Linked DNA regions of Homo sapiens: region 1 is linked to region 2. Evidence: fine-mapped expression QTL. A gene starts in region 2. The other region holds a variant in brackets. All regions are shown on one strand. Distances are between the middles of the regions.

Region 1 (5,379 bases), 23 kb after region 2:
AGCTGCAGACCAGCTGGGTCGCCAGCACCACATTTCTGATCCTTGCTTTTCAATAGTTCCTTTAATTCTTTGATTTGCTGCATATTTTCCAATAAATCCTGCCGTTCTGAAGTTAGCTCCAGTAGCCTTGCTTGTAAAGAAAAAGAAAAAGCCACAGACTAGAGGTTTGGGATCGAGAAGGGGTTTGTATTTCAGCAGTGCAGATAACTTCAAAGGCAATGTTCGACAGTCTCATTGATTTTACTTAAAAAGTCTTTGGCCGCTCTGCCACAGGACTGTGCTTCTTTTCACCTTCCCTCATGGGCCTCAGTCACCTCATATGTGGTCCCCCCCATTTCCCCTCCATTCCCACCTACGAATTTCCCCAACTTTCCTCTGCTCATGGATGAGTCCTGCAGAGCAGCGTGACTCTCTCTCTGTACTGTCTCCTTTCCAGCCATGCCATGGGGTGTCACCCTCCATATTCAAAGCAGTCTATCTAGGTCTTCTCAAGACAATTCTCTCTTGAAGAGTAACCAAGAGCAACAGCAAGCCTGCTGTTCAAAAAGTACATCTCACTCTGCAACAAATCAGTGCCTACTATGTACCAGTTCTTACAAAGTGACACGTCATCTGATGGAGCAGGTCATTGTATCTTGTGAATGCTGAATAAACCAACAGAACACTGATTTATAAACCATAACAACTTATTATTTAGAGTCAGGGTCTTATTCTGTTGCCACAGCTGGAGTGCAGTGGTGCCATCATAGCTCACTGCAGCCTCAAACACCTGGGCTCAAGGGATCTTCCTGCCTCAGCCTCCCAGAGTGCTGAGATTACAGGCATGAGCCACCTCACCTGGCCTCAACAATTTATTAATTTTAATGTAATCAACAAACAAATGGATTAGAATGGGGGTTGTCAAACTGTGGTCTGCAGGCTGTTTTTGTACAGCCCATGAGCTAAGAACATTTTTAAAGCAGTTTTAATGGGTTGCAAAACAAAAAGAAGAATCTACAACAGAAAACCCATATGGCTTGAAATCTTGAAATATTTATTCTTTGGCGCCTTACAGAAAACATTGGCTAACCCCTGGAACAGAATACTCTTGTAACAAGGTCCTTGAGACTGGGATGGATACCCAGACCTTAGGAAATTGATCAAAGTTGGGCTATTTTATTTGGGGATTGCCTATTTAGGCCAGGAAGCCCTTTCTTCCTGTCATTATAGGAGGTGGCTAATTCTATGGTTGAAAAGGAAAGAGGGAGGGATGTTCTGTGATTGCTGGGCCCAACTTGGAGGTATGAGGAGGCCAAAGAGGTTCTGGGGTAGGAAGAGCTGCTCTTGTCCTGTGGAGGGCCTGGAAGTTGGGCCCCACTGGCCTCTGTGGTCTTTGTCAGAGGGAGTGGTAGCAGAGGAGGCTGGGGCTGTGGATTTGCAGGATTGCATGTGAGAGAGGCAGTCCTGGCAGTGGTGGAGTAGCCCTGGATGCCCCTTAGTTCAGCAGGAGGGGAGGTATGGGGTGAACAAACAGTTGTGGGGATTGACCTGGATTGGGGAACATTTGAAGCTGGCTCTCCCAACTTGTTATAGCAGATGAGCCACGGAGTTAACTGGCTCTCAAACAAATGGATGCCACCCTTATCTCCTGATATCCCTGGCTTCTCTACCTAAGATTGCATCACCCTTACCCCTTTCTTCTTATAGATCCTTTCACTTGTTGCTTTCTCTTCTTGCTACTTAGTACTCTCTAGCTCTGATATTATTTAACCCACCCCTTATTTCTCATTTGTCTCCTTCACTAGAATGCTAGCCCTATGAAAGCAGGGATCTGTTTTGTTCACTGCTTTAACTATAATGCTTTGAACGGTGTCAGGCACACAGCAAGTGCTTAATAAATATTTGTTGATTTAATTGAATGAACTTTATTTCCTTCATAATATTCGTGGGAAAAGAATCACTGGAAAGTCTTAATTCCTACTAATTTGGTCAGGAAGGGGCTTAAAGTCCCTCCAAATTGAACGTTAATGGAAATGTGATCGTATTTTCTATCCTTAACTAATAAAGACTGCCATATTGGTGATATTAGTATCAGTTTGCCAGTACATTTCTTCTTAGCAAAATGCTTACATAGGATGCTAACTTACTAACAAAAGGTTATTTACTGAATCTGGAATCAGAATAAAGGTTGTTGCAGGCATAATCATAGTAGCTGGTGTTAGGAAGCTGTGGGATAGCCTGATGACCATGCACGTGGGATGGGAATACATCTTTCAAGGGGATCAAGAAACTTAGGGAGTATCCGGGGCCCTTCTCTCTCCCATATAATAATAACAGGCCACACTCATAGTGCCTATTCTGTGCCAGGCACTGTTTGTTAAAGTCTTTCTGTGTAATTGGTTGAATGAGTTTATGAGTAATAGTGAATATTTTGAGCATTTACCACATACAGGTACTATTCTGAGAACTTTTCACGTTATTTCATTTACTCCTCGTGAGAGTCTGATGCAGTAGGTTCTGATTGTCCTCCCCATTTTGCACCGGGGCATCAGACACATTGACAGGTTGAGTAAGTTGTTTGAGCTCACACAAATTAGTAGGTAATGGAACTGGGATTTGAGCTCTGGTAGCCACCAGGCCCCTGGTGGACAGTGCTGGAGACCTACTAACTACTGTTGCCACTGGTCTTTTACTTCTCTTCTCTTTTCTTTTCTTTTTTGAGACGGAGTCTCGCTCTGTCACCCAGGCTGGAGTGCAATGGCGTGATCTCGGCTCACAGCAACCTCCACCTCTGTGGTTCAAGCGATTCTCCTGCCTGAGCCTCCTGAGTAGCTGGGGTTACAGGCGTGCACCACCATGCCCAGCTA[GTTTTTT/G]TTTTTTTTTTTTTTTTTTTGTATTTTTAGTGGAGATGGGGTTTTACCATGTTGGTCAGGCTGGTCTCAAACTCCTGACCCTGTGATCTGCCTGCCTCGGCCTCCCGGAGTGCTGGGATTATAGGCATGAGCCACTGCGCCTGGCCTGGTCTTTTTTTTTTTTTCTAAACTATACGTGTATTCCAGCCCTTACAACACAGAGCTCTGCAAGTAACAGATGCCCCCAACTTAAAAAAAAAAAAAATGAAGCAAATCCCAGTTCCACGTTCTTCTGGAGATACCTCTTCCCCTTAATTTGACGTGTCTGGCTCCCAAGTCTCATCAGGAATAGGCTGTTATTCTCTAAATCGTAACTATCCCTTGTAAAAGTAGCTACCACTTTAATTCGAAAACCAGGCTAATATTTTAAGTGTATCAAGAGAGGCTTTTTATTGTCACTATCTGTTGAAACCTTCAATAAATCTGAGAGTATTCTTAGAATCAACACATAACTTTTGTGTTTTGTAAGTTTGGAACGTTGCCTGTTGGATTTTCTTAGTGTGGCACATGATTGAAGGGAGCATGTTAACCTTTTAACTAAAATAAAGTGTTTTTGCACAAATTTAGTGATTATACCTGAGCTGGTTAATGTGAGAGAAATGATCTTAAACATGAGCTTACTCTCTTGTTGTGGAGGTAAGACAGACACAGGCTACAATTTGATAACCAATAAAATTGCTTTTGATTAGTGCCAAAATGTATGGAGCAGATATTGAGTCCAGTATTTGGATAAGATAAAATATCTTGGAATATTTTGGGACTAATTTTAGGATAGACATATCATTTTTAGGAATGTTTATAACAGTCCCCATCAGGAGATAATCCCTTCTAGAAGGTTTCTTAGATTTGAACAGTCTTGTTTAAAAAGATAAAAGCTCCTAGAGGGAGCTCACTAAAGGGAATGTGGTTCCCTCTAGTGGTGGTAGAAGAAGTTGTGAATTTTCTTATTTATTTCTTTTTTTCATATTTATTCATTGCATCCTGATACATAGTAGTTCCTGTATTAGAGATACAGAAATAAAAGACACAGTTTTATTTATCAAACTCTTACAAAGTTGGAATAGAGAAGAGCAAATAATTATGATACTGTATCTGAAAATAGTAAAAAGCCTCCTAGTCCAGATCTGGAGGGATGGGGTTAGACAAGGAAAGACTTCCTGAAGAATTAGATGTTATCTGAGTTTTTATAAAAGGAGCACCTATTATTTCTTCCTCTATACAATAGTAATGTATTATACGGGTATATTTGACGTTTATTTTGGAAAATTTGGGAAACAGATGAGTTTTTAAAAAGTCCATTATTTTCTTCACCAAAAGATAACCACTTACAACATTTTGCTATATCTGCTACAAGCCACTTTTTATGGATAATTTATGTTTTAACAGAATTTATGCCCATGACATTTTGTAATGTACTTTAAACAAGTTAATATATTTTGAAAATTTTCTTGTATTACTACATTCACTAGTATAACATTATTCGTTCTCAAAATAGTTTTCCCCTTTTTCCCACTGTTACTTTTTCAGGTGAACTTTAGAAAAATTTTGTTCATTTTTAAAATTCCATCGATATTTATTTATTTATTTATTTATTTATTTATTTATTTGAGACAGAGTCTCACTCTGTCTCCCAGGCTGAAGTAAAGTGGTGCGATCTCTGCTCGCTGCAACCTCTGCCTCCTGAGTTTTAAGAGATTCTCCTGGCTCAGCCTCCCAAGTAGCTGGGATTACAGGCACCCACCACCATGGCTGGCTAATTTTTTTTTTTTTTTTTTTTTGAGATGGAGTTTTGCTCTTGTCACCCAGGCTGGAGTGCAGTGGCGCGATCTCAGCTCACTGCAACCTCCGCCTCACGGGTCCAAGTGATTCTCCTGCCTCAGCCTCCCGAGCTGGGATTACAGGCGTGTGCTACCATGCCTGGCTAATTTTTGTATTTTTAGTAGAGGCTGGGTTTCACCATGTTGGCCAGGTTGGTCTCGAACTCCTGACCTCAGGTGATCTGCCCGCCTTGGCCTCCCAAAGTGCTAGGAGATTTTTTTTTTTTTTTTTTTTGAGACGGAGTCTAGCTTTGTTGCCCAGGCTGGAGTGCAGTGGCGTGATCTCGGCTCACTGCAAGCTCCGCCTCCTGGGTTCATGCCCTTCTCCTGCCTCAGCCTCCTGAGTAGCTGGGACTACAGGCTCCTGCCACTACGCCTGGCTAATTTTTTTTGTGTATTTTTAGTAGAGACGGGGTTTCACCATGTTAGCCAGGATGGTCTCTATCTCCTGACCTCATGATCCGCCTGCCTTGGCCTCCCAAAGTGCTGGGATTACAGGTGTGAGCCATCGCGCCCGGCTGTGCTGGGAGATTATAGGCGTGAGCCACTGTGCCCGGCTTAAAATTCCATTGATATTTAGATTGTGAGAAATATAGAAATTTATTTGGGGAGAGTTTATATCTTTATAATATTAAATTAAGTCTTGTATCTAGACATGTAGTAGGTCTCAC
Region 2 (5,379 bases):
GATGTCTGATTCCTTCTTATCGGGAAAGGGGCCCTGAGGATATAACTTGGAGGGACTATATGGTCAGAGGAGAAAGTTCCTCCTATTTCATAATAGCTATCACCTTGCTACTCCTTCCTCAAATCCAAGGCAGCCAGCTCCTTGGAAGAAACCAGTCTGTTACCCTTCCCTCTCCCACCCACCAACTCACCTGTTTCAGAAACGAAAATCTGCAGACTCTGAGGGAAATAACCCCCTAGTTAGCCATTAGGAAATTAACAGAATCTACCACTCCTGAGATTACATAAGGTGGGGCAGCTGTGTCCACACGCCTCTATTTCCCTGAAAGTTATCAATGGTTATGAGCGGTCTTGTTTCGGGCCCCGCCCAAACTTAAGGTCGCTTGAGTTTTCTCTCTGAGTGAAGGGGGAACTAGTCTGGACCACCCTTTTCTTGCTGGTGCCTTTACGGTAGTTTTCAAATTGTTTAACCAATCTCAGCGTGAGAGTGAGCCAGGAAGTTACCATCCTCAAGTAGGAATCCAAATGGGGAGAAGGGCTACGACGCAAGCGCAGGGTTCCAAATCATGCAACAGGACCTGCAAACAGACTCACACCCCAGACATCAAGAAGTATCTCCCAGCCACACATCTACATGGAGCTTATGTGGCCTCTCCTAGCAGAGGTAGCTGGGGCAATTGGGGGATTGGAGGGCATAAGCCTCCCATCAACCTGGGATCCCTATTTAAAAGATGCTAAAAATAAATTAGTAAACATTGCTGTTTACAGAAATAGAAATCATTTCTGTTTCCAAAGGCCTCTCACCATCCCAGTCCTGGACATTTCCAAGACTGCCACCCCTGACACCCTCTCCAAGGTCCGCCCTGGTGGATGGGTGAGACACCAGAGTCCTTTGAGACTGGGAGCTCCTCAGGCATCTGAGAATTCCAGTTTCACATCCCTGGTTCCAGGGAGGGGAGAATCTTCAGTACTCTGGAGAGTACGGGAGTTCATCCCTTCTTATCAGTTCCTGGGGGCTGTCTTGAGGCAACCCCCACTTTTAGGATGATATACACGTTGCAAGAATTCCCGCTATTTTCCGGCCCCCAGTACCTCCCCAGAGTCCACATGTCTGCCTGGACCCACCCTCAGAGCAGAGGAACCAGTCTGTGCCTTGGTGTAATGACTCTGGGAAAGAAGGATGGGCAGAGAGAAAGCAGGGACAACGGCCTGGGGGATCATCCTTGAGGGTAAGACTGACAGCAATGACTGTCCTACAGGCAGGTGGTGAAGCTGGGCGCCGGGCCGGGACCGGAGCCGGAGGCGGAGCTTTCCACCTCGCTGGTGAGTGGCGGGTCGATGCGGGGAGTTCGACGACGTCCCCGGTACTCGATCATATCTGGATGATAGGTTGGGTGGCGGCGAGCATGCTTGGTCAGGTGGTCGCTCCGGGAGAACTGCTTGGGGCAGAGGGGGCAGGAGAAGCGCTTCTCGCCCGTGTGCGTCCTGTAGTGGCGGGCCAGCTCGTCGGAACGCGTAAACTTCTTGTCGCAGTCGAGCCAGTCGCAGGAGAAAGGGCGCTCACCCGTGTGGGTGCGCTGGTGGGACTTGAGGTGCGACGACTTGTAATAGGCTTTGGTGCAGCCCGGGAAGGGGCATTGGTGGCGCTTGGCAGCAGGTGTGACAGACCTCCTCCGGGGCGCCTGATCCGCGGCGGGGGCGGGGCCTGCCCCTAGGGCCCCTCCAGAGAACCCACCAGAGGCTGCTGGTGCGCCCGGGGCAGCAGGCGCGCTTGGGACGGCGGGCGCATCGGAGGAGCTCTCGGGAGCGCAGACCGCCGCGGCGCCGGAGGCGGGAGCCAGCTCGGAGCACGGGGTCTGGACGGAGCACGGGATCGGGTCGGAGAAGCCGGACGAGGCGCGTGGAGCTTCCCCCGAGTTCTCCCAGGAGCCCTCGCCAGAGCTGCCGCGCAAGTCCGCCCAGACGCTTGCAGCCAGCAGGTGGGGCGCGGCGCCGCCCGCGCCGGGGCTGGGGGCGGGGACCTGCGGGAGCTGGGGGACCGACGCGGGCCCCGGTGGCCCCGGACCCGGCAGAGCGGACTCCGGCGGCGCCGCACCCACCTCCGAGCCAGCGGCTCCACCCGCGCCCTCGGGGTCCGGCGGGCGGCGGTGAACCACGGCGCCCGCGGACATGGACACCAGGCACTCGGCGGCGAAGTAGTCCAGGCACGCCACGGCGGCCGACATGCTGGGACCGCCCGGCCGCCGGCGAGCGCCGTCCGAACGCGGCCGGCCGCGGGCGACGGAGTTCCCGGGAGCGTCCGTCCCGCAGCCTCGGAGCGAGAAGCAGGAGGCCGGGTGCTCGCCGCCTGCCGCCTGCTGCCGCCGCCGCCGCCGCAGCCGCCGCTGCCGCCGCCGCCCGCGCGGAGCCCGCCCCGCCTGACGCGCCCCTGACGCACCGGAGCCCGCGGGGGCGGCAGAGACCCGCCCCGGCCCGCAGGACACCCCCTCGGAACGCGCGGCCCCCGGCTAAGTCATGTTTAACAGCCTCAGAAATTATCTTGTCTCCGCGTTCTTTCTTCTGCCGGCGAGCCAGGTAATGGTAACAGAGCGAAACTCCCCAGTCGGAACTTCTGGGTTGCAGCAGCCTCGCCCCCCCTCCCCGCAGCCCGCCGCCCGCTGGTCCGTCGCCAGCTGGGTGTCCCGCGGAGTCCCAGAAAGTTTTTTTTTTTTTTAAGGAAAAAAATTGCTAATACCTGACATGTCTTTCGGTTCATAATTGCGATTGTTAGCGAAGTGGTCTCGAATTCCATTTCACTCCCCGTTCGCCGCTCTCAGACTAAATTGCAAATATCCCCAAGTCTGTAGCAAAAAAAGTTTTCTCATTGAGCAGGTCAACTGTGAACCCGGGGCCGGGAGCAGTTCCCTAAATAGATCCGCTACGTAGCCATTAATTAATAGCATCTCGAACCAGAAACAGTTTTAACCTTGGAAAAGCAAAGAATCCTCTCCCGGTTGAAATTGAAACTTAAAATCCTTTGAGTAACGATTTAACTATTCAGCCAACGAAAGAAAAATGCATGTTTAAACTGCATTAACCTGTCACTGGCATCCAAACAAATTTAAACGCTGAGATATAAATTATAGTCTAGCGGCGAGATAAACACATTAAAATGGACTCCCACCATTTTAATAATAGAAAGTCACGTTTCCAATTAGGCATTATCTTGTAATTTGCTTTTGACGAAAGTTAAATGTAAGGAAATGCAGCACATGATATAGAATGCTCATATGGTGTTTTGTGATTGTGGAGGTTTGCCTTTTTTATAATCAAATGCATGTACGGTTTCTTTTACGTGTCTTCATTGCTCTCATTTTTTCCCTCGTTTTTCTTTTTAAAAATGTAAAACTACATAGAAAAACAAACAGGATAATTTCTAAAAATAGTCATATCTTAGTTTTTGATGTATACAAGCTTTTATATGAGTGAATTGTGTGCATTTTATTTGTAGTTCTTCAGTACTTTTTCTTTTGAAAATTAATACGTATGTATCAAGAATAACATACGTTCATGTATTTACTGCCTAGGGTAATCAAATGTGAAATTTTTGTTATAGTTGTTTCATGTTTTTATTTATATTAAACATTACAGATAGAGTTGAATGTCACTTTGTTTCCCTCCCCAGTTCCATTCACCTTTCTCCCTCTTCACTTTTCTAGGTAATTAGTATTATAAAGTGGCTATTTAATCTGCATTTGTTTTGATACCCGTATTACCTAATTATACATGTAAATATATGTATATCTCCATGCTTATTTATTAAAATTTTTAAGTAAATGGTTCACTAGTATACATATCATTTTGCAACTTCTTTCCCTCAATATGATTTTGACAGCTATCCAGGTTGACACCTATAGAATCTACTTTATTCATTTCAGCAGTTTTTAAATAATATTGTCAGTGTTATTATTTTTAAGGCGATTCCATTGCAAAACAGTTAATTTTTCTGAAGTTCCTCTAGACGATTAACTCTTCGTTAATCTACACATTAAAATCTATCAGATAGAATAATTTACTAGCTGTTTTAATTTTATTATTTAGAAAAAATGTGAAGATATTTAAAATGCAGAGAGAACATTACAAGCACCCATATACCTGTCTCATATAATGAATATGTTAACATTTTGTTATATCTCCCTCAGATCTATTAAGTATTCAACATTTCTGATAAAATTGAAGGTCCCCTTGTACTGCCCCCAATACCATTCTCCACCCTTTTCCCCAAAGGCAAACACTAACATGAATTTGGTATGTAACTTTCCAGTCTGGGTTTTACAATTTAACTGGATGTGAACCTATAAAATGCAGAATATTGGTTTATATGATTTTTTTAAATGTACAAACATGGTATTAGGCTGTGCATATTATTCTTGGACTTATTTTTTTCATTCATGGTATGTTTTTATTTTTTCTCTTCGTGTTGATAAATATAGATCCAATTCATTCATTTTAATTGCTATAGTGTGGATCCATGCATACAAATGTGTCCTGTTTATTCATTCCCCTATTGATGAATATTAAACTGCTGCCAATATTTTGGTACTACTTGTACATGTTTCCTTTGCACATATGTGAGAATTTCTCTATGTATCTACCTAGATGGGGAATTGCCGGGCTCCACACACATTTTCAGTTTTGCGAGAGACTGCCAAATGCTTCAATTTGCACACCCATCAGAAGTGTGTGACAGTTCACGTTTCCCTCACATGATCTTCAACACTTTCTAGATTAAGATTTTTATTATTCCTGCCAATTTGATTATTTTAAAAAACAGTATCTTGTTGTCTTATTTGAATTTCCCTCACTGCTAGCAAAGTTAAGCATTTTTTCCCCATATGTTTGTTGGTTATTGAGGTTTCCAAGTCTGTGATTTGTTTTTTCACAGTCTTCATTCATTTTTTTCAGTAGATCGTGTATGTTTTATCTTTTTTCCTCCTGATTTGTAGGAATTCATGCGTGTAAACATTAAATATATTGTCTCAGTCTGTGGCTTGTCTTTTAACTGCTTTTGATGTCTTTTGTACTATAGACAATTTAAAATGTACTCATATTCATTGATCTCTTTCTTTATAGTGTCATTTGTGGATTATTAAAGAAACCTCTCCATACCTGATGCATAAAGGTAGCCTCTTATGTCTTCTTCCTTAATGTTTTAAAGTTTTGCTTTCCACACGAGATTGATCTATCTGGGACTTATTTTTTTTGAATGGTGTAAAGTAGGAATTCAATAATTTTACTCCTCCCTTTCCCCCAACCCCCATATGGAAGGCGTGTGGTAACCCGATTTACTGAACAGTCCTTCGTGTCCCTATTAATATGTAATGCCACCATGATTGTAAAT

Direction of the effects. Positions count from the first base shown, and alleles are read on the strand shown. Sizes are in standard deviations (SD) of each study's normalised expression.
With allele GTTTTTT in place of G in region 1, the expression in subcutaneous fat of the gene that starts at base 2,398 in region 2 is lower (moderate effect, 0.51 SD a copy in FUSION).

What was found. PIP is the estimated chance that this variant, and not a neighbour inherited with it, causes the effect.
Region 1: its variant is the best candidate, but not a certain one, in a credible set for the expression of KLF14 in subcutaneous fat (FUSION, PIP 0.58).

What each region holds. Positions count from the first base shown.
Region 1 is chr7:130,754,842-130,760,220 of GRCh38, forward strand. The region is part of intron 3 of LOC105375508 (a long non-coding RNA gene); the gene reads left to right. Among named protein-coding and RNA genes, the nearest start is that of KLF14, 23 kb to the left of the region's middle. The variant GTTTTTT/G (reference allele first, on the strand shown) is at 2,847.
Region 2 is chr7:130,731,810-130,737,188 of GRCh38, forward strand. KLF14 (KLF transcription factor 14) reads right to left here and starts at 2,398. Exons shown (of 1, transcript NM_138693.4): 1 at 1-2,398. The coding sequence starts at 2,224. The coding sequence ends at 1,253. It overlaps LOC105375508 (a long non-coding RNA gene), which reads left to right and starts at 2,455. Exons shown (of 4, transcript XR_927978.3): 1 at 2,455-2,573; 2 at 5,112-5,160. RefSeq lists an enhancer at 1,469-2,006 and silencers at 1,902-2,061, 2,132-2,211.